Linked DNA regions of Homo sapiens. The main gene of each other region encodes a partner of the protein of the gene in region 3 in a complex. Each region holds a gene or a part of one and is shown on either strand. Other genes may lie near its edges. The genes, in order: SART1, LSM6, LSM8 and PRPF6.

The links.
Region 1: LSM8 (region 3) and SART1 share a complex: the UniProt entries of both Homo sapiens proteins name them as parts of the U4/U6-U5 tri-snRNP complex.
Region 2: LSM8 (region 3) and LSM6 share a complex: the UniProt entries of both Homo sapiens proteins name them as parts of the precatalytic spliceosome.
Region 4: LSM8 (region 3) and PRPF6 share a complex: the UniProt entries of both Homo sapiens proteins name them as parts of the U4/U6-U5 tri-snRNP complex.

The regions. Positions count from the first base shown.
Region 1 is NC_000011.10:65,956,494-65,965,217, forward strand, and holds the start of SART1 (U4/U6.U5 tri-snRNP-associated protein 1), read left to right. Parts: upstream 1-5,240; 5' UTR 5,241-5,287; coding exon 5,288-5,600; intron 5,601-7,580; coding exon 7,581-7,638; intron 7,639-8,021; coding exon 8,022-8,077; intron 8,078-8,598; coding exon 8,599-8,724. Other genes in the region: TSGA10IP (testis-specific protein 10-interacting protein), read left to right, coding at 2,390-2,489, 2,658-2,821, 3,324-3,447. UniProt on the Homo sapiens protein: Plays a role in mRNA splicing as a component of the U4/U6-U5 tri-snRNP, one of the building blocks of the spliceosome. May also bind to DNA.
Region 2 is NC_000004.12:146,177,740-146,186,307, reverse strand, and holds part of LSM6 (U6 snRNA-associated Sm-like protein LSm6), read right to left. Parts: intron 3,403-8,568; exon of another isoform or gene 3,397-3,402; 5' UTR 3,387-3,396; coding exon 3,293-3,386; intron 1-3,292. UniProt on the Homo sapiens protein: Plays a role in pre-mRNA splicing as component of the U4/U6-U5 tri-snRNP complex that is involved in spliceosome assembly, and as component of the precatalytic spliceosome (spliceosome B complex).
Region 3 is NC_000007.14:118,200,721-118,205,660, forward strand, and holds the end of LSM8 (LSM8 homolog, U6 small nuclear RNA associated), read left to right. Parts: 3' UTR 1-3,315; downstream 3,316-4,940. UniProt on the Homo sapiens protein: Plays a role in pre-mRNA splicing as component of the U4/U6-U5 tri-snRNP complex that is involved in spliceosome assembly, and as component of the precatalytic spliceosome (spliceosome B complex).
Region 4 is NC_000020.11:64,025,051-64,033,618, reverse strand, and holds the end of PRPF6 (pre-mRNA-processing factor 6), read right to left. Parts: intron 7,681-8,568; coding exon 7,561-7,680; intron 6,638-7,560; coding exon 6,461-6,637; intron 6,017-6,460; coding exon 5,883-6,016; intron 5,142-5,882; coding exon 5,050-5,141; intron 4,243-5,049; coding exon 4,128-4,242; exon of another isoform or gene 3,934-4,127; intron 3,828-3,933; exon of another isoform or gene 2,811-3,827; intron 1,702-2,810; coding exon 1,575-1,701; intron 779-1,574; coding exon 626-778; 3' UTR 519-625; downstream 1-518. UniProt on the Homo sapiens protein: Involved in pre-mRNA splicing as component of the U4/U6-U5 tri-snRNP complex, one of the building blocks of the spliceosome.

The DNA.
Region 1 (8,724 bases), on a different chromosome or scaffold from region 3:
TCAAGTGTGTTTTGGGGGACTGCTTGGGCCAATGTTTAGGGGGATCCTTTCTCCTTCCCAATCTTGCTCTGTTGCCCAGGCTGGAGTGCAGTGGTGTGATCTCAGTTCACTGAAACCTCCATCTCCCGGGCTCAAGCAATTCTCCTGCCTCAGCAACCTGAGTAGCTGGGACCACAGGTGCGCGCCACCACACCTGGCTAATTTTTTTGTATTTTTGGTAGAGACAGGGTTTCACCATATTGCCCCAGCTGTCTCAGACTCCTGACCTCAAGTGATCTGGCTGCCTCGGCCTCCCAGAGTTTTGGGATTACAGGCGTGAGCCACCGCGCCCAGCCAAGTGTTTTGTTTTCACAGTGAGGCAGGAAGTGTAAGGTTCAGAACTCCAAGTGGCAGGTGCAGCAAAAAGAGTGATTCAACCTCACTCCTTTTACTTTCTATTTGAGAGGGCTAAGGCATAAGTAGGTATCTCCCATGCAGTCTCTCAGCCATTACAGCCTATGAACTTCGCTGTCTGAGCGGAACAGGAGACTCTGTCCTGCCTAGGAAGGGCAGGCACAAAAGAGGTTGTCCTGTGGGAGGGAGGGATGTGTCTCCTTCCATTCTGAGATGATGGACGGGGCTGACACCCATAGGCACCACTTCCCTTTCTGCTCAGGGCTCCTGTCATTGTTTTTTTGAGACAAAGTCTCGCTCTGTCGCCAGGCTGGAGTACAGTGGTGCAATCTCGCCTCACCATAACCTCCAACTCCCCAGTTCAGACGATTCTCCTGCCTCAGCCTCCCAAGTAGCTGGGATTACAGGCGCACGCCACCACTCCCAGCTAACTTTTGTATTTTTAGTAGAGACAGGGTTTCACCATGTTGGCCAGGATGGTCTCGATCTCCTGACCTCGAGATCTGCCCGCCTCGGCCAGCTCCTGTCACTTCTAACAGAAATAGCATAAAGTATCCAGCAGGAAAAGTGCACACAATATCACAGAAAAGATAGGGACTGCCAGCTCATTTCCCACCTCCCCTTGTAACTGCCATAAATTCCTTCCTAAATGGTGAAAGCCGTTTTTGCAGTAACTTGTGTTCCGGGCCATGGGTTTTCAAGTCCATGTCTTTTTCTCAATGAAGGATGGTTCCTTCCCTGGCACAGGGCCACAGCAAGGGTGGCATGGCCCAGCAAGGCTGAGTTTTTCCACCGGGCCCAGCACAATCGCTGAGGTCCCAGTACAGGTCTTGGGGTCTTGTCTGTGTCTCCCCTCCCCTCCTGTCCTCTTGTCTGCGTCTTCCCTCCCCTCCTGTCCATGGGTGCTGCCTCCACACCTCAAGGCCTCTCTTACATGCTTCACAGATGGATGCCTGGTCCCATGTGGGTGTGGCTCGAAGGTCCCTCTTGCTGCTAGAGTGCTCTCTTCATGAGTGGCAGTGATACTCAAGTTTGTCAAACAGACACATTTCTGACAAGTGCACAAACTGGGTTTTGGGTTTTTTGAGACAGGGTCTTGCTCTGTTGCCCAGGCTGGAGTGCAGTGGCACAATCTCAGCTCACTGTAGCCTAGACCTCCGAGGCTCAAGCGATCCTCCCACCTTGGCCTCCCAACTACCCAGGACTACAGGTGCATACCACCATGTCTGGCTAATTTTTGTAGAGACAGGATTTCACCATGTTGCCCAGTCTGGTCTCAAACTCTTGGGCTCAAGTGATCCACCCTCCTTGGCCTTCCAAAGTGCTGGGATTACAGGTGCGAGCCACCACGCCTGGCCAAATTGGGTTTTTATAAATGAAAATTGTGCTTCCCCAGTGGAACCCTGATCTCTCAGGGGTGTGTTTTTTAAATTTGAAACATATTTTTTTTTAGTTTCTCTGTCCCATTTTCCAAGCTGTCTGCTTACAAGAACCACAGAGAATGCTGGCAAGCTTGTCCGATCCCTACTATAGCACAGTGAAATAAACTGAGCCCAGAGCCAAGAGCCCAGAGAGAGGCCTCACCCAAAGTCACACAACCAACAACCACAGCTCCCCCTCAAGGGAAAGAGGATGGGGAGGGGAAGCTATGTAAGCACGTGTCTGGAAGCTCAGAAGCCAGCACTGGCCCCTTTCCCATGGGGCTGGCACAGGAGGATGGGCAAGCCCCAGCTGCACAGGGCTCGGCCCCTCACTTCCCAGCTGCACAACTTTGAACAAGTCCCTCAACCCTCCCGATCCATCCGTAAATTGGGTGAATAATTTCCACCTTGGCTGACTTCACAAGGAATCCAGGCAAGAATGGGAATGAAATAGCTTTGTAAAGGTGAGGGTGAGGACATGAATATCAAGTCCTTAGTGAAGATAAGCGGGCTCAGGAATGGAGATCAACAGTTGTGTCCATGGTTAGCTGCACAAAGGCCTGTCTCCCCTGCAGGCGCCAGGAGCGACAGCGCTTTGCTGAGTACCAGGCGGAGCTGCAAGGCATCCAGCACAGGGTGCAGGCCCGGCCCTTCCTGTTCCAGCAGGCTATGCAGGTGAGGCTGGCACCTGGGCAAGCACATAGCTGCCCCCTGTGAAGAGCTGGCTGAGTGGGTAGGGAAGCAGGATGCGAGTAGGTCCCTGCAGATAGGATCCCAGGGCTGCTGCCCTCTGGAATCCCTGGGACCCCCTCAGTAACCCGATCCCCACCTTGCCCTCGGCAGCCCTGGTGCAGAGCAGGAAGCCGTCTTCTCTCTCCTCAGGCCAATGCCCGGCTCACCGTCACTCGGCGCTTCTCCCAGGTGCTGTCAGCACTGGGGCTGGATGAGGAGCAGCTGCTGTCTGAGGCAGGAAAGGTGGACAGAGAGGGCACCCCCAGGAAACCCAGGTGAGTCTCCCCGTCAGGTCAAGAACTGACTCTGCCATGCTGCTGCGGGAAGGGGCGCCCACACCAGCACTCTGGGCTCTGGAGGGCCTCCCCCAGGACAGGCAGAGAGCCCAGAGGAAGGCAAGGCCAGGGTTGTCATTCCTACTTCTCAATGAGGAAACTAAGGACCTGAGGGGAAGGGCCTTCTTTAAGGACGCAGGAGCGAACAAGCAGCAGAACCAGTCTGGGACTCTGCAACCATCTGAGCGGCCACACACCAAGTCCCTCATTAGGGGCTGGCACCACCACGCTGGTCACCCCATGCCTTAGAATAACCTGGTACAGAGCAGCGATTATGAAGCCCACTTGACAATAAGGAAAGTGAGACTCGAGAAGAGTCACTTTGCCCAGGATCACACAGCAAGCCGGCACTGAAGCAGGGTTTGAAGCCACATTGTCAGTGGTTTCCTTGGGCATGGGGGTGGGAGCTGCAGAGTCAGGGGCCTCTATCTGTGTCTTGAAGGAGCCACAGGTCAATGGGGGTGAGAATGGAGCACTCTCCTCAGAGGCCCCCAAGGACAGAACCCACCGGCAGCCAGCCTGACAGGCACTACAACCCCAGCCTGGACCCGGAGTGCAGTCCCTGAGATAAAATTAAAGGCTTTATGGCAAACACAGTATGAGATTTCTGGTGGTGGGGGTGGTGGAAGCTACGGGTTGGAAGTTGGAGGTGGCAGGTGGGTGGGCAGCAGGCTTAGCTCTGTCCCCGCACCCCCTCCCCACCAGGAGCTTTGGCTCTTTTGGTTCCCCCCACCCAGTACACACAGCCCCTTCTCTGCTCCTGAGGAGTGGGGACATCTCAAAGAGCAAGAGCTGTGACTTCTCCACCCCATCTCCAATGTATATGTTGGGTCCTATAAATTCAAGCATGAATAAGATGAAATGACTCCTGCCTCTGAGGACGCCCAGTGAGTGGGAGAGGGGGTGGATCCTTAAAGGGGCGCATACAACATAGCCTAACACATGCTGAGTTGTGCCACACAGGGAGCCACAGACTGAGCAACCACTGGGTGAGGGGAGGGGTTTCAGGAGAGATTGGGATTGTGTGCACTGCGCTTTTTTTTTTTTTTTTTAAGACAGAGTCTCGCTCTGTCACCAGGCCGGAGTGCAATGGTGTGATCTCAACTCACTGCAACCTCTGCCTCCCAGGTTCAAGCGATTCTCCTGCCTCAGCCTCCTGAGTAGCTGGGACTACAGGTGTGCGCCACCACACCCAGCTAATTTTTGTATTTTTAGTAGAGACGGGGTTTTACCATGTAGGCCAGGATGGTCTCGATCTCTTGACCTCGTGATTCGCCTGCCTTGGCCTCCCAAAGTGCTGGGATTACAGGCGTGAGCCACCGCGCCCGGCCTGCACTGGGGTTTTAAGTCCCAATAGTTTTAAGTTAGGGCTGGTCTCCTCAAGAAAAAAACTCATACACACAGATGTGCCACATTTTGCATTCAATTTCAGGGGTTCCAGGGATACACTGACGCCCATGTGGAGCTCCTAAACAATCTTAACAGTTCACGGGGCCAGGTTTTAAAAATCCAATCCAGGGCCAGGCGCAGTGGCGCATGCCTGTAATCTCAGCACTTTGGGAGGCCAAGGCGGGTGTATAGCCTGAGCTCAGGAGTTCGAGACCAGCCTGGCCAACATAGTGACCCCACCCCCTACCCCCGCTCCCCACCAACCATCTACAAAAAAATACAAAAATTAAAGGGGCGTGGTAGCGTACTCTCGTAGTCCCAGCTACTGGGAAGGCTGAGGTGGGAGGATCACTTGAGCCCAGGAGGTCGAGGCTGCAGTGCGCTGTGATCACGCCACTGCACTCCAGCCTGAGCAACAGAGTGAGATCCTATCTCAAGGGAAAAAACAAAACAAAACAAAACAGGGAACGTGGGAAGGAAGCGTTCCCTGACGATACTGGTTATAGCGGGTCTGAAGCTGGGCTGTGGAATTGGAGATCTCGGGAAAACAACACCCGTTGGAGCCACGACCCTAGGAGTCCACTAAGCGAGCGCCCATTGTAGGAGGGAGGTGTCTACGGAAAGACCGTGAGGTAGTGAACACCCCGTTGCCGGTGAAGTGCAAGCGCAGGGAGGCCGGGGAGGAACTTAAAGCCACGAAGACACTGACTTAATGGGCTCTAAGTCCTTCCAGTTCTGGGATCCCACCTCCGGGTTAATTCCGCTTCCCTTGAGGAGCGCATGCGCAATGGGACCACTCGCTCAAAGAACCCACCCGACCCGAGACGGCGCGAATGTGCAGTCGAGCGCTGATCCCGGCCTTCCCATGAGCCTCTGGGGCAGGCTCCAAGGCGAGCGACGGAAGCAGCCGCTCTTAGTTTCCGGCAACACGACAGCGGCTGCCGAGCGACCCGGAAGTATTCCCATTTTGCGTTGTCTGGGCTCGGCGGCAGCCGGGCTCGGAGTGGACGTGCCACTATGGGGTCGTCCAAGAAGCATCGCGGAGAGAAGGAGGCGGCCGGGACGACGGCGGCGGCCGGCACCGGGGGTGCCACCGAGCAGCCGCCGCGGCACCGGGAACACAAAAAACACAAGCACCGGAGTGGCGGCAGTGGCGGTAGCGGTGGCGAACGACGGAAGCGGAGCCGGGAACGTGGGGGCGAGCGCGGGAGCGGGCGGCGCGGGGCCGAAGCTGAGGCCCGGAGCAGCACGCACGGGCGGGAGCGCAGCCAGGCAGAGCCCTCCGAGCGGCGCGTGAAGCGGGAGAAGCGCGATGACGGCTACGAGGCCGGTGAGGAGGCGGGGCCTGCGCAGGGGGCGGGTCGGGCGGGGGTCCCGGAACGCGTGGGTCTGGGTGTGCGCGCAGTGTCAGCGAAGCTCTTCAGGCCAGGAAACCCCCAAGCTGTTTACCAGCTCTATTAAATAGTCTTTCTACGGGATCCCTTGAGCCCAGGAGTTAGAGGCTGCAGTGAGCTGCGGTCCCGCCAGTGTACTCCAGCCTGGGCAACAAAGCGAGACTCTGTCTCAAAAAGAAAAAAGTCTTTCTACGGTTGTTTAGGATTAGAGGTTGACTTTCTCCACTCAGCTGCTTGAGGACAGAGGGCTTCTGTTTTCCTCAGTTGTCTGGTACAATCAGATTCTCAATAAATATGTTGAATGAGTGAATGAAGTAGTGTCAGCATATACAGAGGCAAGAAAAACCTGGTATTGGACGAATCGTGTAGGGCGCATGGTAGAGAAATGAGGGAGTAAGATAGACAGGGATGTGAACACAAAGGACCCTGTACTGTAGTCTCTGTTAAGAACTGTAGATTGTCTTGAGGATAGTAGGGAGCCATGGATGTGAGTTGAGGAGTGAGTTGCTCAGATCCGTATTTTGTAAACATCACTGGATTGAGAATTTAGTCAAAGGTAGTCAGGACTGGAGACCAGGAAACCAGGAGGGCTATAGGCCAGGGGAGGGCTGATGGTGGCCTGCACCAAGGCAGCAGCAGTGGGATTGAGAGAAGTGGACAGGTTGGAGAGGTGTTTTGGAGGAGGAATGAACAGAACTCAGCACTTGTATGAGGGTGGGAAGAAGGAATGGAGGATGACTCCTTGAATTTTGGCTTGAGCAGCCAGATAGGTAGTGGGTGTCATTTCTACTGAAATTGAGGAGTAGGGAAGAGAAGCAGATTTGGAGCGGGGGTGGGGGGAGATAGTTCACTTTTGGGGTTGTCAAGGTTGATGGTAATGGGGAAATCCAGAGTTTGGACTGGATAAAGCCATTGGGAGTCAGTATCTGGGTGGCCAGTGAAGCCCCTGAAAGACTGTGACATGAGAAGAGGGGGTCAGGACTAGAACCTGAGAAATGCCCTTATGTTAGTAGTAGGCAGAGAAAGATGTTACCAAAAAAAGGAGACAGAGTAACCAAAAAGGCAGGAAAACCTTTGTGTCATGGGAACTTTGGGAAGAGAGTATTGTTAGAAGGAGGGAGCGATCAGCAGTCCCACATACCACAGGAGATCAAGCAAAACCAGAACCGAAAAGAACCCACTAGATTTAGAAACGAGGAGGCTGGTGACCTTGGGGAGCCTGGAGAGGTTGGGATCCATGGCCCAGGTGGAGAGAGAAGCCTTTAAGATAAAGGAGAAGGTAGGATGCAGGATGGGAATGCAGGAAAGGAAGAGTTTTTTTTTTGTTTTGTTTTGTTTTTTTGAGACAAAGTCTTGCTCCATTGCCCAGGCTAGAGTGCAGTGGCACGATCTCAGCTCACTGCAAGCTCTGCCTCCTGGGTTCAAGCAATTCTCCTACCTCAGCCTCCCGAGTATCTGGGATTACAGGTGCGCACCACCGTGCCTGGCTAATTTTTATATTTTTAGTAGAGACGGGGTTTCACCATCTTGGCCAGGCTGGTCTTGAACTTCTGACCTCGTGATCCATCTGCCTCGGCCTCCCAAAGTGCTGGGATTACAGGCATGACCCACCATACCCGGCCCAGACCTTGTCTGTTAAAAATGAAAGAAAAAAGTAGAGGGCAGAGTGGTGACTACAGCAGTTTGGATGTCTTGGGTCAGGAAAGGAAGGTGCACAGAAGAGGCAGGGCTCTGAGACTGGACTCGGGCAGAGGAGCTGCTGGGGAGCTTGGGTGGAAGAAGCTGCTGTTTTCTGGTGTTTCAGCAGGCCCAGGTGCTGGTGAGGGGCCCTCATTTTTGTTCCTGCAGCTGGAGCCAACGATGCTGGCTTCTTGGCCCTGTGTTCAGCTCCTGAGCCATGCTTCTTCTTGTTCCAGCTGCCAGCTCCAAAACTAGCTCAGGCGATGCCTCCTCACTCAGCATCGAGGAGACTAAGTGAGTACTGTCTCCCTTGTTTCTACTTTGTTTTTCTAAGAGAGGTGGCTCTGGGGCCAGCACGGGGGAGGCTTTCTCACATGAAAGTGTGCTAATCAGAGTTGGAAAGATTGTTTAAATCATCTTAGCCAACAGTTGACTTATAGAAGAGAAAACTAAAACCTAAGAGTAAAGTGGCATTCACTGGTTAGACGCAGACCAGGCTGGTGCCCATGTTTCCTGCTTTGGAGGCCAGGGCCCTTCCCAGTGTCCTAGGCTGCCTGGGGCAGACTTTGTGTTTGGGACCACTCACTCCCACCCTGTTTCTCCTCTTGTCTGTCTGGAAATGCACATGGCACCCTGTGTCTTTAATAGCCCCTAACACTTGTATCTCTTGTTGTCAGCAAACTCCGGGCAAAGTTGGGGCTGAAACCCTTGGAGGTTAATGCCATCAAGAAGGGTGAGTATGGGGCTGAGGATAGGGTTTGGGGGAAAGAGGCCATCTGAAGGGGTCTTTGAAGAAGGTGGGGTTAGAGGGCAGGTTCAGCACTGTTTAGTGGTCTTACACATGCATATTTGCCGGAAGGCATGAGGTCCCTCCTTGCTGGTATAATGGGGATCTGGGGCTCCGCCTGCTCTCTGAGTTGGAGCTGTGGCCGTCGCATACTCACTCTGGCTGTGAGTTGTTAGATGGACTGGAAGATGTGCACACTTGCTGCAGACTGCGCTGTGCGGGGGTGGGTTTCTTGTTTTTCTTTAAAGCACGATTTGAGGGGCTTTGGAAGCCACAGAGGGTCCTGTTGTGCTGCATGGGTTGGCCAGGAGTGTGGGGACGAAGTGGGAGCAGGGAGGTGAAGGATTGTTCCTTCCTGTCCTGACCCCTTCTGGCCCCCTGAGCTGGAAGGGGGCAGGGTGAGTGGCTCCCTCCTCTCCCCACCAGCCATGGGCGGGCATAGCCTCACGTCTGGGCCCCCCTTCCAGAGGCGGGCACCAAGGAGGAGCCCGTGACAGCTGATGTCATCAACCCTATGGCCTTGCGACAGCGAGAGGAGCTGCGGGAGAAGCTGGCGGCTGCCAAGGAGAAGCGCCTGCTGAACCAAAAGCTGG
Region 2 (8,568 bases), on a different chromosome or scaffold from region 3:
AAAAGTTTCCTTTCAAAATTGTGTAATGACAGCAAAAGACATTAATCTACCAGAATTCTGCTAAAAGCGGTAAACTCTCAAAGAACGAGAATGGACTGTGAATAATAAAATTATTTCCTAGCAAAAGAAAGCTTAAGCTACAACTTTAGCTCGTTTCCTGCTGTACTATTTTACATACAAACTGCAATTATAAATGAGCAAGAAAAATCTGAGGCACAATATGCAAACCTGTTTGAAAACCAATGAAAAGAATTTCAAAATGAAATGTCCAGGCTGGGCAAAGTGGCTCATGCCTGTAATCCCAGTACTTTGGGAGGTAGAAGCTGGCAGATCACTTGAGGTCAGGAGTTCAAGATCAGCCTGGCTAACATGGCGAAACCCCGTCTCTACTAAAAATACAAAAATTAGCCAGGCATGGTGGCAGGTGCCTGTAATCCCAGCTACTTGGGAGGCTGAGGCAGGAGAATCGTCTGAACTTGGGAGGCGGAGGTTGCAGTGAGCCAAGACTGAGCCACTGCACTCCAGCCTGGGCGAAAGAGTGAGACTCGGTCTCAAAAAAGAAAAAAGAAAAAAAAAAAAGAGTTCACTTCTAATTAAAATATCTATTCTCACAGCAAAGGCAAAAACAAACAAACAAACAAACAAGCAACAACAACAACAAAAAAACTGCCCAGGGGGTTAGAAATACAACCCTTTCCTTCCATGAGATAAACTACTATACAAAACCAAAAACAAGACATTTTCTCAAAGAGAAACTGCTACAGAGAGTTGCTGGAGTTTTTCTTTTTTTTTTTTTTTTGGTATGTTGTTGTTTTGCTTTGGGGTTTTTTGGGGTTTTGTAAACCACAAAATAAGCACGTTCCTTTAGTAAGGCTATCTAATAGTATAAAACATTTTGCTTTAATAGTATAAAGGCCATTCATAAGAGGAAAAAAAATTATGGTTACTATCCATGTGAAAGACTCCTGAATCTCACTAGTAAACAAAGAAAATATATGTAGAATGAGATATTACTTGTTGCCAATTAGATTGGAAAAGATGAAAAAAAGCTAATACAAGAGTTGGTGAGAACATGAAGGATAAACCCAAGTTCCCTGATGCAGGGCCATGGAATACTCTCTGACTTGTAAATCCTAGCCCAGGGAATTGATTCTAAAGAGATGTTTGGTCAACTTCACAATATATGTCAAAGTAGAAGAGTTGTTTATAGTGGCAAAAAACTGGTCAACACCTAAATGTCCATTAATAGGAAATTGGTTAACAGTAAAAGCAAAACCATGGTACAGCCACACAAGAGATTCCTATGCAGCCATTAAACCCTCTATATTATTACAAAACTAAATGTACTGTTTCAACGTTTAAAAAAAAAATCAGGTTGCATGTAGTTGACTCCATTTATGTCAAATTATGCTAATATAGAGGTCAAAATTGGTAAACTGTCTCTGGATAGTAGCATTGGGGATCCTTGGCTTTCTTCTATATACTTTTCTGTATTATTTCCTTTTACATTTCTAAAATTAAAACAAAACTAAAACATGTATTGCCTTTATAAATAGAAAAATTTTCCCTAAAGAGTACAGAGAAAAAAGGTCAGGCTGGTTCATCTCTTCAATAAAGTGGGTACTGAGAAGACATTGAACACAATGTCCTCACTTTAATCAACTGTCAAACAGATTAAAACCCCTAGAAGTCTATTACTTCCTATGGGCCCATCATCAAAAGTTCGCAGGTGAGAGGCAGTACACGGAGACATTATACTACCTCAGTATTCCGTATGAATCCATTAATTTTACTATAAAAATAAAATTAAACTGGAGATACGTTATTAATGTCAAGAAGCTAAAGGAGTACATAATCACCAGAGTGGTTTCTTAACAAGGCTTATGAGCCGAGCCTGAACTTGAGTCCTAGCTCCTCCTCTACTAGGTGGGGATAATCAATAGAGATTTCAAAGGAAAAAGCTCAAGAGATTACTATGACTATTAATTATTCAGAAAAGAGACCAAAAAAAGGCCACAAAAACCTGTGCTATGGTTTGAATGTGTCCCCTCCAAAATTCAGGTGTTTGGCAATAGGAGAGTATTAAGAGGTGGGGGCCTTTAAGAAGCAAGCAGACCATGGGGACTTGCCCATTAATGGGATGAAGGCCTGCATTAAAAAAAAGTCTTCACGCAGTGTGCTGGTTTGCCCTCTGCCTTCTGCCACGTGAGGACTCAGCATTCCTCCTCTCTGGAGGACGTAGCCCTCACCAGACAACTGAACCTGCTGGCACCTTGATCTTGGATTTCCTAGCCACCAGAACTGTGAGAAAATAAACTTCTGTTTTTGAAAATTACCCAGTCTAGAGGCGGAGCTTGCAGTGAGCCGAGATCGCGCCGCTGCACTCCAGCCTGGGTGACAGAGCGAGACTCCGTCTCAAAAAAAAAAAAAAAAAAAAGAAAATTACCCAGTACAGTGCTCAGGTGACGGGTGCACCAAAATCTCAGAAACCACCACTAAAGAACGTATCTATGTAACCAAAAAAACCACCTGTACCCCCAAAAACTACTGAAATAAATAATAAAAAAAATACAAAAAATGAAAATAAAAATGACCCAGTCTGTGGTATTCTGTTATAGCAACCCAAGAGACCACGTCCCTCTGCTAATGAATCAGTTATAGTTACACCTGCCAAATATTTCAGGTAACTTAACATACCTTAGCTTGGAAGATAAGAAATTCAGTAACTTTAAAAAACGGAATTTAAAACCATTCTTCCTATAAAGTTAATTTCAAAAGCACTGCAGCCTCTTAAAAATAATATTCTCTCCAAGAACAGAAAGGCATTTTTTTTTTTGAGACAGAGTCTCACCCTGTTGCCACACACATTATACGTTATATGAGTGGGACATTCAGGTTGTAAAATGATACTCAACAGCTGCTTGCCAATCTTGAATACTCCTGCAAAAACAAATGCTGCTGCACCAAGATGTTCTTCAGTTGTGTTGTTCATACCTGAGTTCACTAGGAATACCTAGCTATTACCAGGGAATTTAGGCACATATGATCTCAAAGCAGAGACAGGAGACAGAAGTCACACAAATCACACTGAAAGGCAGAAGCACATGCTATACTGTCAGAGTTGTCCTTCTAAAAGGAATGATCTCAGAGATAGAAAAAGATATATGCATAAAAACTACTGATGACCAGTACTTTTTTGGCCTATTGGGTATACTTAAGAGGTTAATAAATATCAGTAAGTCACATTTACTTATTCAGTTATACCAGTGAGGTTGAAACATGAAAATATTACCTCGATAATCCACTCCAGAATTTAATTTTACCACAACTGGTCGTCCGATGATTTGCTTTAAGAAGTCACTAGGGGTTTGCTTCCGAAGACTCATTTTAACAATCCTAAATCAAAATATGAAAAGGAACAATAAAAGGTAAAGACCAAAGTTGATTATTCAACAAAACCCTTAAAGCCCTTAACATACTTACAGAAAATGAAGTATCAAAGGACCATGCGAGAAGACGCGTATTACTCCACTGCTACTACATGACAGCTAACATGTTTTCAGTACTTACTATGAGCCAGATACTAAGCTAAACATTCTACATGCATTATCTTATCAGTACCCACAACACCATGGCACAGTCTCATTAGGGAAAGTCCTGTGTTTACAAAAGCACCTGCTCTTAATCACTTATCATTACTGCCTGACACATAGTCAGTATACCCATTACAACCATTACCACTTCCATTCAGTGAGTGGTTGGTTATTTTATGCAAAGCATTCTGCTAAGGTCTTTATAAACACTATCACATTTCATCTTTACAAGAACCATGGGAAGAAGGTCTTAATACCCTCATTTTGCTGATGAAAAGTAAAGGCACAGAAAGATTAAATAATTTGTTCCCAAATGTGATGGAACATTCAAGTTCAAATCAGCCCTATTTTAAAGTCCGTATTATATAGAACAGACATATTTATGAACAACTGATGCCTAAATGGTATCTCTGAAAAGAATTATAATCTAAAGGTAATTTTGAGTGTACTATATGCCAGCACTTTTCCAAGAACTTTATATATATTAATCAATTTAAATTGCTCTACCCTAAAAGGGAGGTATTGTTTTTATCCTCATTTTACACATGAAGAAGAAGACACAGAAAGATTAAACACTCTGCTCAAGGTCACACAGCTAGAAAGTGGATAGCCAGCCCATACTCTTAATCACAACCTTAAACAGCTTTCTGAAAGTCAATAACACAGTCAAAGATTTTTAATTACTCTATTAGGACTATAGCAGATATGTGCTCTAAATAATGAAGAAAAAAGTCTTAAAACTCAAGTATAACAGGAGTCTAACACAGAAAAAGAGATAGCATTACACACCCAAATCAACAGCATCAGACATGCAAAGCTGCACATCACTCCTTTCAAAACGCATCTTTTCTTATAAAATAGCTCTCTTTCAAAATATGTTGGTAAGTTAATAAAACTGTAGTTAAGCAAAAACTGAGTAAAAATATTTCAGAAATTAATTTTTCTGTTTCAGTCAAATTCAGCATCACTATTATTCAGCAGCTATATAGCACTGAGACTTAAAAGTTAGTATGGATACAATATTTTAAGGATTCCCTTCAAGAACTCAAGCTGTTCTTTTGTTTTCAATGAAATTTTTTCATTAAATATTCTTCCATTATTTTTTCATTAAACATTCTTCCACTATGCTTATTTCATTCTAAGTCCATCCACTCAATAATCTGAGTTTGTGTGGAGAAGGATTATTTGGAGACGTTCTCATAGTGAATTCACACGGGATCAGCAGTTGTAGTAAGCTGGAACTCTAGGTTACTGGGCTCAACAAATTACATGTACATGTACACACTGAGCAAGGAAATTCAAAAACATGTCATACACAAAGGCTCTGCCTTAAAGAACTTAAAATCTAGAAGAATTTAAACTCATTTAAAGAGTGTGAGTAAACAAACGCAATCATAATTTAAGTAAAATAATTTTATTTAGCCAAGAAAAGTCAACATCCTAAGTCAAATAAAAGAAAATACAAATTTCAGAAATTATCTTTGAATTTTGGGCTATCATTTGGACAATCTACACTGCCCCCAAGGTTTGAAAGATGTTTTTAAAATGCAATAAATTATTTTGCTCAACAAATGTTAACTTAACTTTTCCACTGAATTTCTAGCTTATTTTATTAGCTCCACAATCTCAACAGATAACTACAATTACAACTACTATTACAACTACTATTCAGGACAACCACTTTTCATTCAGGACTCAGATCACACAGTAATTTTATTTACACTGTTCTGAGTACAAAGTGAAAAAATACAAAATAAATACTGTAACAGATTCAGTACCTTTAATGAGTTTAGTGAAAATACACAAATCTTCCCATTCATCTATAAACCGCCTTATTTACATTTTGAATACATGCTGTTTTGAGGCTGAACACATCTAGAGAGAATATTAACTCTGAAGGCCTGATACTCAACTGATGAGTCAGGTGCATTTCCTATCACAGATGCTAAATCCCATTATGCCACAGTTTCATTATGTATAAAACTGAGATAAAAGTAGCTATTTTGTGTTAAAAATCACTAAAATGCTTTGTAATGTGATTCTAGTTCATGGAGATATTAACTACTTTAATTATTACTAATTTCATCTGCTCATAGAGTATTTACAGTTTCAGATTAAAAACATTTGAAAAGCAAAAGCTGGAAAGAGTTAATAACTGTCAGAAAAAAGAATGCAAATCTTGACTATCAGTTGCTTGACAGTATAGGTTATTTTAAAAGTATTATTAATATTAACTTTCCACACCTTTTTATAAACACAGATATGTTCTTCTAAGCTCACCAAAGATAACGCCTTGTCCATTATGCTTTATCTGTATTCCAATTAACATCAATCTCTTCCTGAAGGCAATCAACACTTCCAACTTTCACGGAGCACCTGTCAAGTTCAGGCGCACAGGGTTGGGGAATGTAACACAAAGACAAGGCCTTAAGCCCTCAGAGTTTACATTCCAGAGAGGGCAAGAAACATGTAAATGCAGAATTTTACAAAGGTGATGTGTATTCTGATAGAATTATGCACAAAAGGGCAGAGAACACTCTCTTACCCCAGGCTTGGCAGATCAAAGAATTTCTGGAAGTTAACACCTGAGCTGAATTTGAAGGAAAAGGCGTCACCCCCTAGCTGAAAGAAGAGAAGTCAGAAAAGGCACGGAACAAGTGTCTGGGTAGAACGTAAAATCTACATAGGCAAGGAGGAGACGCCTCTGCGGCAGGGAGCTGTGCCACATTCACAGGGAGCACAGAGTTGAGGCTCTGGGTCAGTTTCCCAAACTTGAATCATTAGGATCAGCTGGAGATTCTACTCAGTAGTTCTGGGGTAGGAGCCAGCAATCTATTTGAACAAGCCTAGGAAATAACTGGCAAGGGGAAATACTGTTGTCAATGATAGGAAACAGGGGTTTTAAGCAGGAACTTGCTTGGGTTCCACTCTCTACTTTCCATAGCAGAGTGCAGATGCCCATCTCACCTACTTTTGGCATCACATAGTTTGGCATTTGATTTTATTTGCTATAACCTGTCACTATGCCCTCTTTTGTATTCTTTATGTGGGTCTTTTCTCCCTCAAAATACTGTAAGCCACATGACAAGAGGGGCTCACAAGCTTCTCATCTGTTCTCTAGAATATCTACATTCTACTAAACCTCTTGGAAAAAAAATACTTCTAAGGTTATTTGGAAAAGAGTATATGGGTTGCCTCAAACACATTTTATCCATCACTTTAGGAAAGCCGTATCTTTTACATTAGTCTTCATTAGGCTTCCTTGCTACTCCCTGTTACTTAATGACTTGCCCATAAATCCATTTTGTATGAGTAAATTGGTCTTGACACCACAATTTTTCCCATCACTTGGCTCAAGTAATTTTAAGTTTTCATCTTTTAAATTGGATAAAGCAGAAGAAACAGTTCTGACAATTTCTGAAGCAAGAGATGAGTCTCTTGAACCATAAACACATAAGAGGAAAAAGACCTTTCTTCAGGGTCACCCTGGTAAAACTTCTCCTTTCAAAATTAAAGTCATAATCACTCTCTATACCTCCTCTCCCTCCCCTGACTCCTACTCAGGCTTGTTTTAAATGACCTATTTTCATAAATGACTATTAAGTCAAAGGCAGTATATTTTCTGTCAGAAGCTACTGAGAGGTCTAGTATGAAAACATCTGCAAAGTGCCCTGCAGGGAATTTTTTTCTTTTTGGTAAAAGAATGAAGAAAAAAAAGAACTTTTATTAACCCAACTATGTGCTACCAGAGTTAGATTCATAAGCAATTTACAGAGAAACCCTGTGAGGTGGAAAGCAAAGCCAAGGCTGACCCCAAAGCCCAAGCCCTTTCACAGGTACAGCTGCCCTTCTGAATATGTTAAGATTCTCTGGTTAAATCTTGGGGAATCGCAATAGAGGCGGTGAGAAATCCAGTTGGAGAGTAGCAGCACTGGGGAAAAAAAATACCTAACGTGACAAAGTGCTGTAAATTAGCCTCAGAGAAATACAATGGACAGATGCAAAGAAATCTATCTCATGTGATTTGAGTTATGCCACTGAGCAGAAGACATGAAAATCCTTATTTCTTGGCAATGTTTACCTGTAAGTTTTTACCTACTCCTGGCGTATTTACAGTTTAGGGTGAAAAGAATTTGAAAAGCAAAAATTGCAAGGAAACATTACAATCCAAGTAATTGCAGCACTAGACTAATAGATCAGTGTCTGAGGAGGCGATCAGATAGGCAGAAGAACAGCTCTCTAAATCCTCCCTTCGGACACAGTGGAGTTCCTCGCTGTCTTTTGAAGGCTTCATACCAATCCCTCCTTCCTCGGCAGCAGGGGCTACTTCTCTCCCTCTCTCCCAAAGGCGAAGTGAGTCCACTCAGAGCACCTCTTTCCACTCTCAGTCATGGCCCTTATCAGGCTGTTTCGTAATTTTTCCATTTGCTGACTGGTCTCCCGTGCGAATTTAAAGCTTCTTGGGGACAGGGAAAATATCTTACTCACTTGGTGTCCCTGGTACCTAAGCACACTACCCAAGTCTGTGGAAGAGACATTCAAGGCCAGTGCCAAGCAAAATCCCTGTCCAGCCCCCATCAGCCCAAACTATGGATACAGTGACCAGTAGGATCATGCATGTACTTCAACAAATACTAACCAAGTAATCTCTATTATGAGCACCAAAAACTGAGAAAACAACTGTTTGTGTCATTCAAGAACCAGCTGTTTCCAAATCTAGAGATGCTTGTTAAAATGCAGATTTTCCCGAAGTCTACTCAGGTAAAGGCACTGTATTTTACATTTTATAAAGTTCTCCAGATAATTTCTATAAGCAAATGGTTCTCATCTAGGGGCAGTACCCCCAACCCTGCCCCACCCTGCTCAGGGACACTTGGAAATATCTGGGGACACTGAACTGTCATGACTGAGGAAGGTGGTGCTACTGCTATCCTAGTGGGTAGAGACCAGGGATGTTGCTAAACATTTTACAACT
Region 3 (4,940 bases):
TTTATTCCTTAAGTGTTTGAATTTACACTTTTTTCTCCTGTGACAGCATCTATTCCCAAGGCAATCAACATTTTAATGGAACGAACTGAGGTTTGCAATTGCTAATGTTATTCTCCCATCCCAGTTTCTACTTGTTTCTTGTAAAAAAGGAGGTTTCTAAATCTTGACTGTTGATTGACAATTAATGGGCTAAATTTCCCATTAGCAAACACTTTTCACATATACACTAATATTAGTATCTAAATTATATTAAAATCTAATTTGGTAGCAATTGACTTGAAATTTGTGATACTTCAACTTGTGCTAGGTTGTAGTTTTGCTTGTATCACTCATAGTTACTAAAAATGCAAAAGGCAAATTTGAAATAACTATAAAAATAAACCTTTAATGAACTTTTTAATATGCAATACTCAATTGTAAATAACCATTATCTTTACTGAATCAGATGTTTCATTAACTGTTAGCAGTTATTTCGAGTTATTTATATATCACAGAATTTTGAACTAAAGATCATCTAGCTGAATTTCCTTTATATTAAAGAAGAGGAGAAAATCTTAATACTAAGTATGTGTGAGCCTGGAGCTGCCATGGAGCATGTAGAGAGAGTCTCCTAGTTGATACCAACTCAGGAAAGCAGAATCAAGCAATAAAGAGACATTTTGGGCCTGATGACATCATTTCAGCACCTGGATCCAGCGATGCCTAAAGATGTGACTCCTAGACTTTTCACTTACATGAGCCAAAACGGTTCCTTTGCATCAATAAATCGCTCTGTGATGCATTTTATAATGTACAACCAAGAATCTCAATATTTATTATTTTGCATTAAATATCAGTAAGTTTGATATAAAAAGCTCAGTAAAATTCATTAATTTGAGAATGTGTCTATATCATAGTAAAGTTTTAAACCTACATAATTTTCAATATTTATACCTTTTACTGCAAAAATAAAAATGAGTTTATCCTTGCCCTAAAGCTGTAAAATTAAACTCTGTACAATTCTAGTTATTTGAAATATAAAATAAAATTATTGGTCATTTCATGTATACATTTGTGGTAACACTTTAACTTTTTCCCTGTAAGGCCATCTTTTGTATGTTTCTGTTTCCATCAAGCAGGCTTTTAATGCAACTTTATCTTCTGGGTTTCCCTAGTCATAATTAAGGGTTTGGCCCTAGTTCACAAGTAATCTTCCAGCACAAATTTTATAAACAAATGCCCTGTGAATCTGCATGGCATAAATCAAGTCTCTAGATCCTGATCACTTCTATGTGAATTTGTAATATTCTGCTTTTGGACTTGTAAGACCAAGAGCAGACTCCCTAAACACAGAGGAGGCAGTAATTTAGGACAGCTTAAACATTCTGGCTGACTGCCTCATCAATGCTATTTAATAACAGAATTCTGGGGATGTCTTGAAATAGATACATTGGCAGTTTTTTTGTTTTTGTTTTTGCTTGTGTCACACATAATGCTGATGAAGAAACCATGAAGTGTCATATGAAAGGAAGTTACGATTATTATTGGTGAGTACATCAGTTAGAATGGTATTTGGCTATAAGCACTGGAAACTCTGACTGCCAGTGGCTTTAACAGGCAGGAGGAGTTCATTTATCTCGAGAGAAAAGAACAGAAAAGTGAAAAGCAAGGCAGTTCAGACTGGGGCACCTACTCAAAGAAGTGACCCAGTACCCAGGCCACTATTTTCTCTTTGCCATCCTTTTGTTCTAATAATTTGCCTGTCATCTCGTGACTCATATTTTCCATCTAATTAGAATAAAGAAAGATGAAATAGGAAAGTGAGATTATCATATGGGAAAAATAAATGCTTTCCCAACTATAACCAGCAGACTATACTGGCAAAATATACTGCTTGAATGCCATTGGCCAGATCTTTGTCATATGGTTACCCTAACTACAAGGGAGGCTAGGAAGGTGAGGGATTTTTTTCCTTTTATAGTGACATTTTGCCACTCCAAATAAAAAAAGGGTTGCTGTTAGGAAAAAGAGAAGAATGGGGATGGGGTGAACAACCAACAATGCTGCCATTGTGCTAGTATAGAAGCAAGTATCTCAGAGGCAGGTGAAAACAACTTCTATGCCCAAACAGAATTCTTTTTTATCTCTGATATAAAATGCAGAATATGAATTTTAATAAATTCCCCAGGTGAGTCATATGCACATTAAAGTTTGAGAAGCACTGATCTATACTGTCTTTCTACACACTTTTTTACCTTACTTTATCCTTCAGGATTCTGGCGTCAAGTCCCTCCCTATCAGTCTTTAAAAACTGTAGCCTTAAATCAGTAGGGATATAGAAGACATGAACAATACTTTCATCCATCTTGACCTAACTGCCATTTATAGAACGTTCTATCCCAAGACATCAGAATATATATTCTTTTTAAACATTTAATGAAAGGATTTAACTCCCAAACTCCAAAGCAAGATGTTCTAAGAAGACTCATTTAAAAAATTAATCTCAAAAAACAGATTTTAAATTGTACAGGAGAAATGCTTATATGAGAACAGAATTATGGGGCACTCTGAATACTAATTTAAGAAAGAAATATAAACCCCTTTTAAAACTCACATAATTTTCCCATTTCCCTTGAAGAAGATACTAATATTTCTGATATCATATAGGAGTAAAAATTGCGGGGAGGTCCTAATATCCAATATTAATAGAGCTGTGATTATTCAAGCTGTAGACTTAAATTTTTTAAATAGAGTAATGGTTGTTTAGTAGAGATTAATATCTAAATAAGGAAAATGAAGAAAGGGACTAAAAATCAAGTAAATAGGATAATTGAGTTTCAATGGGCAAGAATTTTTATATCATGATTTTACCACTCTGAATATCAAAGTCAGTGATGTCTCCAAAAGGCAAAGGGAAGTGTACCAATTTTTGGAGCACTATAAAAAGTGAAAAGTCATCTGCCAGATCTAACATGGTATACTCTAATGGAAAAATCATCAAGATTCTCTTCCTTTTTATGATTCTATAGTAACAGTTTAGTTGAGAAAATAAATCATAATTTGTGATTTCAAACATTTAATATGTGCACATGTATATTATAATATACTCATCCTTTATATTTATCATGCTTTTTTGAATAAATTTGCCACCTTATTGCATATGAAGAATATCTCCATATTCTTACAGCTGTTTTTCTTGGTTGCTTTCTAATTCCTTTCCTCCCTTATTGGTTACCTATGAATTGCTCAGTTCTAACAATGATTTGTAAATTTTAATACTATAGATATATTGCTGTTAATTATTACACCTAAAAATAAATTATTTTACAGAGGCTACTAAGAATGTCCATGTTTTTTTCTGAGATTCTTGCCATATTTTAAGGGTGATATGTAATTATGGGGATAACGGATGGTATGTAAAAATAGCAAGGACACACTTTTTTAAAAAAGAAAAGTTTACATTTGAAGGAAGCCCTGGACTTTGATGATTTAAGAAGAATTTTAATTATTGTCCTCAAGCAAGATTCAATTTTCTGGTTTGATGGGGCTATATTTTTCATTTACTACAGTAAAAAATAAAGCATATGAAACTATAAACAAGACACCTGCATGTGTATGCTTATCATTGCACGATTCACAGTAGCAAAGTCATAGAACCAACCTAAGTGTCCATGAGTGGTTGATTTGATAAAGGAAATATTTCATATATACATATACATATACACACACATACACACATATGTAACATTTTTGTATATATACACAATAACATTTACTGTTTACACATTGTATATAGTGTATATATAGAGTGTATATATAATGTGTGTGTATATATATACACACATTCCATGATATATAATATATAAAATATTTAAATATATATAATATATAATATTATATATATATATAATGGAATACTATGAAGCCATAAAAAAGAATTAAATCATGTCCTTTGCAGCAACATGGATGGAGCTACAGCCCATTATCCTAAGTGAACTAACTTGGAAAGAGAAAATCAACTATCACATTTTCTCACTTATCAGTGGGAGCTAAACAATGTGTACACATGGACACAAAAATGGAAATAATAGACACCTGGGACTACAATGGGGGGAGTATAAGAGGAGGCTCAGGGTTGAAAAATTACCTATTGGGTAATGTTCACTCTATGAGTGATGGGTACACTAGAAACCCCATCTCCACCTTTACACAATATACCCATGTAATAAACATGCACATGTATCCCCTGAATCTAAAATTTAAAAAAAAGGATACAAAATTTAAATTTCAAATTATTACAGAACTCAACTGACAGATTTAAAATACTTTATTTTCCTATACAGCTGAACAGTAGTTATTCATTTGTTAAACTTAGTTTTGGTATGTTCTGGAAAAATATTAAGAATAATGAGTATCAAATTGGGCCAAATAACAATAATATTCATCTATGCTATGTGATCTAATTCAAAGAGTACAGGTTTGGGGTCAGACATATTTGAGATCAATTCCACATTCTGTATATTACTAACTCATTTTTATAAGGCTAGGGTGTGGATTAAATGAGATTAAATGTACATAATCTACAAAAGATTACATTCCTTCCCCCTATTTTATGACTATACATAGAATAGGGTATTCATTAGGTTACCATATAGAGTAGTATTGACAAATATTAGTTTTTGGAAATGAATCTAATTCATTATATATTGAAATGCCAGTTTCATGCCATCCAAATGATCTTTTGTGGAAAGAATTAGTTAAACGTAATTATTAGTAGCAGGTCATTTAGATAAGTGAAATTATAAACGGTACAGGTTGCTTTGGTTTGTTTAAAAAACTAAAGAAAAATGATTGTGTAAGTTCAGGTCCTTCCGAGAAAAAGAAAAAAAAAAAATAGCACACACACACACTGTGGGGGCAATGGGAGAGTGTCTGCACTTACACATAGCTACTAAGTAGAA
Region 4 (8,568 bases), on a different chromosome or scaffold from region 3:
GCCTGGGCGACAGAGCGAGACTGTCTCAAAAATAAAAAAATGAACTCACCTCCAAAAGAAAGAACGCCTCTTACTGGTGACACTGTCACTCAGCACATGCCTGAGGGGCCCGGGAGGCTGTGTGGAGAGGCCCTGCGCAGAGCTGGGTTCTCCTGTTTGCACTCAGACCCCAGGGAGGCCCCAGCTGTCCCCTGACCAAGACCCTTGCAGGCGGCTGCCAGGCTCCTGCGAGCACCTGCGTCCTGCATGCAGCTTGGTCCCCACTGTCTCCAGCTGTCCTCACAGGGCTTTTGGCCAGAACATCTGCACCCCTACCACCTTCTCCACAGTCTTGGGGAACCCGGGCACCTCCACAGTGCCTCCTCTGTGAGACACCGGCTGTCTGCAAGAGGCTTCTGTCCAAGCAAGGGCGATCACAGCCACCCCAGGACGGCATGGGACAGGCCAGGACAGGCCAGACTGGGGCAGCAGAAGCAGGAGCCAGAGAAGGGCCCCAGAGAAAACCAGCAGGCTGCCTGTTCTGACACGAGACATAAAAACTTTTAATGAAGGAGGACACAGCTCAGAGCCCTTCCACATGCGGCCCAACCCTGCCCCACGGAGACCGGCCATGGCAACCGCTCAATCAGAAGGTGTTCTTGATGCGGCCGGCCACCAGCCTAAGGATGTCCCCGATCTTCTTCTGCCAGTTGGCGATGTCCTTGGACACGGCGCACCACAGCTCCCCATGCCGAGGCTCTGCACTCTCACAGCGCTTCCTCACCTCCTCCTGCTGCTCCTGGGGGGACCACAGGGCACGTCAGGCAGGGGTCCTCCCACGCTACTCCCCGGACCTCGCCTGCTTCTCGCCTGGCCCCTGCAGACCTGGCCCTGGCAGCACCAACCCCAACTGGCGGGCCAGAGGGCACAGGCCCTGCACCGGAAGGCAAGGCTCTTTCAGGTGTGTTCCTCAAAGGAGCCCCACCTCCTGAGGAGCATGGACCCCACCAGCCTCAGCCCACAGATGAGGAACTGAGCCAGGCTCCCCATGTCTGTGCCTCACACAAGTGCTCACGTCTGCCTTCTCCAAACAAGGAGTTAGGGTTCACGTGGGCTGGCAACACTTTCCAGGGAGGACCAGGACAGCCTGACTGCCTCCAGCACAGCTCAGACAACGCTTGGCTCTAGCGGGGCGGGTGGGAGCAGAGGGGCTGCTGCCCAGGCTGTCCTAGAAAGCCACACTCAGGCTCAGGCCCAAGAAAAAGGCCAACTCCATTCCCATTCCTAAAGTGAGCCCAGGCTCCAGCCAGCAAATAACTCGTTAAAATACTCCAGCAGACAGGCCACCCTAACGGACAGGGTGCCTCAATTCCAGGGTGTGGAGCTGTGAGGCTATAACCAGAAAACGGATGTGGAGGCAGAGACTGCCTTGTGGGGAGGTGTCGAGGATTCTGTGCCCCACACACCCGGTCCATCCTCCCGACCCCGGGCAGAGTCACGCTGGCCGTGGCCACCTCCTAGAGCCCCCAGGGCTGGCGGAACTCCCCGCCACAGTCCCAGAAGGCACTGAGCGGCGGTCTGTCGAGGGGCCTCACCTCAGTGCCATGCTGCAGCTCAAACTTGTAGAAGAAGGCCCAGGCATCCCCCAGGTCCGAGTCAATCTTCACAGTGCGGTGGAACCACTCCCTGGCCTTGGTGATCTTCCGCTGACTCCAAAACAGCCTGTTCCAGCAGAAGGACGTGAACCCAGAGTGAGTGGCTGCAGGACGGTATTCTGGGGCAGGGGAACGGCTTCAGGGCCATCAGCTTCATCCCTGACCCGCAGCCCTGGTGCTCCCCTCAAGAAGGCCTGAGGATCAGGGCCTCGGCTGATCCAGAAATAATTACCCCAGATCATTAACTTGAAGCTGCCCTTCACGGGTCTAACCAAATTGGTTTTTTTTTGTTGTTTTTTTTTTTTTTTTTTTGAGAAGGAGTCTCGCTCTGTCGCCCAGGCTGGAGTGCAGTGGCGCGATCTCGACTCACTGCAAGCTCTGCCTCCCAGGTTCAAGCGATTCTCCTGCCTCAGCCTCCTGAGTAGCTGGGATTACAGGCATGCGCCACCACACCCGGCTAATTTTTGTATTTTTAGTAGAGATGGGGTTTCACTGTGTTGGTCAGGGTGGTCTCAAACTCCTGACCTCATGATCCACCTGCCTCAGCCTCCCAGTGCTGGGATTATAGGCATGAGCCACCGCACCTGTCCCAAACTGTTTCTTAAAAAATTCACACGCAGGGAAAGATCTTCCAACTCCGTAAAATTAGGGTCAGATACAAGGAGATGAAACTAAACCTGACACAAAATTAAACTGCAACTTTGATGAGGGAAAGTTATACAGTTTCAGCTCCTCACTGAGACACCTGCTGGATCATCCTGCCCCACCCGGCCTCCAGCAGCAACCCCAGTGAACACTGAGAAGATGGGCTCCAGGCAGCACAAGGGCCTGGGCCTGCAGCCCACAGCCCTCAGGCCACTGGATTCACACCGCCGTGCCTGCCAGACACATGCACACCTGAAAAACCGGGCCCGAAGAGGTCCATGCTATGAGAGGCCAGGTAAGGGTGTGCATGGCACCCCCACCCGCTGCTGGAGAAGGGATGGCGGGCGCTGGCTGCTGAGCATGCTGGCAGGCCCGGGACTCTGCGTTGCTGCCACCCTCTCCTCAGGGTCACCTCCCCCTGGAGCCAGAGGCACCGTAGTCAAGAGACAACACGAGGAGCCTCCACTCCGGGCAGCTGTTCGGGTTCGTCTCAGTTGCCAAACGGAATAATTTCACACTCTGATAACCTGATTGTTTTTTAAGCCTTGTGGTATTCTTAATTGCCCGGTGTTAGATAAACTGTGATTTAAAGAGCACAAACCCAGATAGCAGACACACAAAACACTGGCTTGGGAATAGCAAGGAGTGACTTATTTACTTTAGCAAAGCCTTTTATAAGGTTTTATGGCTGCACTATCAGAGTGTCACCCAGAAGTCACTCTGGGAGGTGAACGCACAGGGCAGGACCAAGGTAGCACCAGGCAGACACAAGCCTCCCTGTGGGGAGCCTCTCTCATCTGTCGGGGGCCTGCGGGCAGGGGAGAGGAGGTGCCCCTACAGGCAAGCCTGTGGGGGCGGCACCCAGACCTCTGGAGACCAAGCACCACTGCCACCCAGTGCTGGGGAGAAGGGATGGAGAGAATCAAAAGCCAGCACTAGGAAGGCTGTTGTCTCTGCATGACCCATGGCGGGGCAGGTGGAGGGGAAGCCGGACACAGGAGAGCTCCTGGGGCCAGACACGCCACCTCTGCCAGGTGAGCCCACGTCCTGAGCTGCAGCCTCAGGAACCCAGGGTTCTTCCAAGAACTCCCTTCACCCCACATGGTCACTTCCCAGCCTCCTGACCCACACTCAGGCCCAGCTCCTTCCCAGACTGTCATCCTCTTTCTAGAAGGAAACAGGGACCCTGGGGGTCGGGGATGGCCCTGAGCTCCCTGCTGTGCCCCACACCTGGCGGGTCTTTGCCCACATGTGCCTAGAGTCTGCATGCTCTGCCCCATGGCTACCCGCTGCTGCCTGCAAGGTTCCAGAGTCACGTCCCCAGTGAGTCTCTGACCCAGCGGCCAGCGCACCAGTGTGAATCACACGCGTCCCCAGTGAGTCTCTGACCCGGCGGCCAGCACACCAGTGTGAATCACATGTGTCCCCAGTGAGTCTCTGACCCGGCGGCCAGCGCACCAGTGTGAATCACATGCGTCCCCAGTGAGTCTCTGACCCGGCGACCAGAGCACCAGTGTGAATCACATGCGTCCCCGGTGAGTCTCTGACCTGGCGGCCAGCGCACCAGTGTGAATCACACGCGTCCCCAGTGAGTCTGTGACCCGGCGGCCAGCGCACCAGTGTGAATCACATGCGTCCCCAGTGAGTCTCTGACCACGGCACCCTCAGGTGTGTCTGCCAGGAGAGGCGCCTGCCCCAGACCACAGCAGGAGCGACGGCAGCCGAGGATCGGGGAAGCCCACCCTGCTGCCGGGCATCTTTACAATGACCAGGAAGAGGCAGACAGACTCTGGAAAAAGAGCCCATTAGGACCCCGAGGTTCAGCAATCCTGTGGGGGCCCCACTCACTTGGCCACGGCCAGGAGCACATGGGGGTCATGCTCACACTTCTTCAGGGCATCCACGCTCTTGGTCCTCCTCTGGGGCCTTGCCTCGAGGAAGATGGCCTCAGACCACAGGATACCTATAATTCAGAAACAAAGAACAAAGATTTGCACTCCAGCCTCTGGTTCCGGAAAGGTGCCCAGCCTACAGATTCTAACCCGGGACGTCCTCAGACCACGACAGGGGCCTCCCACACACGGCTCGCAGAACTTGTGCAAGGAGAACCACAAAGGATGAGCACTCTGGCCCACCCAAAACCATGGCAGCCCTGAGGGCACAGACTGGACACCCTGCAGAGTCTCACTCTGTCATTCAGGGTGGAGTGCAATGGCGCAATCTCAGCTCACTGCAACCTCCCACTCCCGGGCTCAAGCAATTCTCCTGCCTCAGCCTCCCGAGTAGCTGGGATTACAGGCGCCCGCCACCATGCCCAGCTCATTTTTGTATTTTAGTAGAGACGGGGTTTCACCATGTTGGCCAGGCTGGTCTCAAGCAATGGACTCCTGGACTCAAGCAATCCTCCCGCCTCAGTCTCTCAAAGTGCTGAGATTACAGGCATGAGCCACCACACCTGGCCAATTTCTTTTAAATTTTAAAAGAAAAAGAAATGATAACACTTCAGAAATGAAATCAAATTCTCCCATTTTGAGGCCAAGAATTTCATTAAGTTGTCTTAACGGCCGAGTATAGCTGAAACTTTTGACTGAAATGATTCACACAAACTACACATTTTAATAAAGTCCGTCTGAAGCCTGAGCCCCCACTCCCTCAGGAAGTGCCAGCCCTGCGGAGTCTGGGAAGCCAGGAAGCACCCCCTTACCGGAGTCAAGGCACCCCCTTACCGGAGTCAGGGCACCCCCTTACCGGAGTCGGGGCACCCCCTTACCGGAGTTGGGGCACTCCTGCAGCGCCTTGGCCATGAGTGTATTTGCGATGTTCTTCAGCCCCGCACGGTACTCCAGCCGCACGGACTCCAACCTGAGGAGACAGGCCCCCGGAGGTCCCACAGCCGTCTACCAACAGCACATATTCTGGTAGCTTCTGGGAAGCCTTGTCTGAAAGGGCTCTCCACCCAGTCACAGCAGCAAAAACTCCATTCCCTCCACAGCAGAGCTCATCCACCACAGAAACAAGGCGCTGGGGCCCACATCCCTGCCAGCCCCACTGGCAACCGCCCCAAGGCAAGACCTCAGATCCTGACGCTGTCCAGATGCAGGTGAAGGCATCCAGAACAAACAAGACCAGACTGGGAGAGCCAGGGCCGCACAAGGCACCCAGAAGCTGCCTGTCTGCGGCAGTGCCTGCACAGTGCTCCAGCCCCGTCACCCTGAGCTGGACGCAGCACCTCCATGAACAGAGCCTGCACCTAGCAGGCTCCTGTCCACCTCCAGGGCTCTCCACGCCACCTCCTCTGTGGAGCTGGCTCTCCGGGGTCCATCCTTCCCTCGTCCCAGCCATCATTAACCCCTCCCTCTCCCAGGCGCCCTCCATCAGAACACAAATTAAACTGCATCAAACCATCTACAGGCCTGTCACAGTACCTAGGCCGAACTCTCCTAAGGCAGGGACCGTGATTTTTCATGGCCAGCACCTACCGCCCCCCAAGCCCCTGAGCCTGGAAGCACTGCACGAGTGACTCCACACAAGCAGCTGGGTGACGGCGGCCCACCTGATGGGGAAGCTGTGCCCAGAGGCCAGGCTGCCCCCTCCAGGACTCACCACAGCCCAGGGTTCTTTGGGTTCTTCAGACGAGACTTTTCCAAAATGGCCCGTGCTCGAGTAAGCTGCCCAATCTTCTCCTCCAGCCGAGAGAGCAAAAGCCACAGGGGTGTGGAGTGGGGACACTTCTTCAACTGCAACCAACAAGTAAGAGAGCAGCTCAGGTGGTGTCTATGAAGAACTGGGACACAGCCATGCCCAGCTTCTCATCTGCAGTGGGTGACCGAGTCCCTCAGGGCTGCCATGTCCATGGAAAAACACCCCTCACACTCTGCATTTGTGGGTGTACAGGTGTGCGGTGGTGCTGTGGACCTGTGCACACAGGTCTGTACGTACCAGCCTTTACTGCAGGTGTGCCACACTCTGCACTTCTGAGCAGTGTGTGCAGCTTCATATAAGGAAAAGCACAGAACTCAGCGAGGGGACCAGGGTTTGGGTCCTGAGTCTGCAGCTCCATCAGCTGTAACCCCCAGCCCTCCACATCTCCTCAGAGGCGAAGGGCAATGACCCTGCACCAGGGGGCTCAGTTTTGTGAATGCCGGGTCAGCTGCAGCCCCAGGGTGCAGGCAGAGACGTACCCCCTGGTTATAGGCTTCCCGCGCCTTCTCCATCATCTCCTTCTGCTCCTCGATCTGCCCCTTCATCATCCACAGCTTGGGGAAGTCCTCATAGTGCCGCAGGGCCTCCTCGCACAGATCTTGGGCTGCCCTGATGTTGTCTTGCACCCACTCCAGCTTCACAGACTTCATGAACACCTGTGGGGCAGACATGCACTGTCACGCAGGGCATCAGCTCCAGGGTACGTGCTTCATGGTACACTCATCCTCAACACTGTTACCTGCAGTACTGTGTGTACTTTTGTAAGCTTTTCATAGCCTGTTTGTGTACACAAAAGGTGGGGATAAATATATGTTTTTGTTTTGTTTTGTTTTTTTTTGAGATAGAGTCTCGCTCTGTCACCCAGGCTGGAGTGCAGTGGCACGATCTCGGCTCACTGCAAGCTCCACCTGCTGGGTTCACACCATTCTCCTGCCTCAGCCTCCCAAGTAGCTGGAACTACAGGTGCAAGCCACCACACCCAGCTAATTTTGTATTTTTAGCAGAGTTGGTCAGGCTGGTGTCGAACTCCTGATCTCACAATCTACCTGCCTTGGCCTCCCAAAGTGCTGGGATTACAGGCGTGAGCCACCACACCCGGCCGTATGAACATGTTTGTTGTTGTTGTTGTTGCTGAGACAGTTTCCCTCTTGCTGCCCAGGCTGGAGTGCAGTGGCGCGATCTCAGCTCACCGCAACCTCCACCCCCGGGGTTCAAGCGATTCTCCTGCCTCAGCCTCCCGAGCAGCTGGGATTACAGGCACGCACCACCACGCCCGGCTAATTTTGTATTTTTAGTAGAGACGGGGTTTCTCCATGTTGGTCAGGCTGGTCTCAAACTCCCACCCTCAGGTGATCTGTCCGCCTTGGCCTCCCAAAGTGCTGAGATTACAGGCGTGAGCCACCGCGCCCGGCCACCACGCCCGGCCACATGAATGTTTTAGTCACATCACAAAGATGAGTGTGCTGTGGTCTCGTTTGCCTGCCGTCATCTCACTCCCATCACCACCCAAGCCAGGCGTGGGGCCCGCATGTGCACACCATGCACCCCAGACGGCCCAGCCCTGCCTGCCACTGCGTACCCGGGCGGTGGGGGCACTGCTCCGCGCCTTGGCCAGCAGCCTCCGGGCCCGCTCGTACTCATCATTCTCGGACTCCAGCTTCACGGCTGCCAGCCAGATCTCCTCACTGTTGGGGTTGGCCTGAAGGGCAAGTACAGCAGCGTCAAGAGGGGTCAGAACACAGGGACCAGCGCCTGATCACACTTAATCAAAAGCAGGCAGGCAGGAACTGAGCCAGGCCTTGCTCTGCTACAGGATTAGTCTGGTCCAAGCCCTTCCCAGGGAGGAGATGACAGAGCCGACTCCAGTGCAAGAATCCAGACTCACCTGGAAACACACAGGCCCATGTTCACTCTGGTACAGTGAGGACAGTGAAGAGGCTGCTAAAGCACTCGAGCAATAACGGGGGCAGGTGCAGGGCCATCTTACCCAGGATCCACCCACGCCCTCTCAAAGCCCCTGAATGGGGCACTCGCATCCTATACTGGTAGACTCATCACACGCAACCTCGCTCTTTCCCCTGAGCTTGATGAAGGGAAGCCAGCTGTCCTGTCCTCATGAGCCCACATGGGCAGGAGAGAGGACTCCCAGGGTGCCACTGACATGTGGAGAAGGCGTCCACAAGCCACGGAAGCTCACACAGCCCAGAGCCCAGTGGACACGCAGGCTCTGCCCTCAAAGCCTCCCCAGCCCGGTGCCCAGGGCTGTCTGAATGCGTCCCAATCAGCACAGCCGCCCAAGAGAGCGGGTGGAAGGAAGCCACGTGACAGGCAGAGAGCGGGCAGGTGGAGGGGACGCTGCAGTTACTCACAGGAGTGATGCCATCTCAAACAGGCAGCTGAGAGCGAAAGGTTAAACCCAGGCCAGTCCCCTCTCATGGTATTTGCTCAAAGAAGGGCACACTCTATGATATTAGCCTGAGCTACAGTAACAGACTTTTATATAGCATTCTATAGCTTATTAAAAAGTATGTTATAAACTATTAGGATGTTATATGTGAAAATAAAGACAAGGTACTTAAAAAAAACA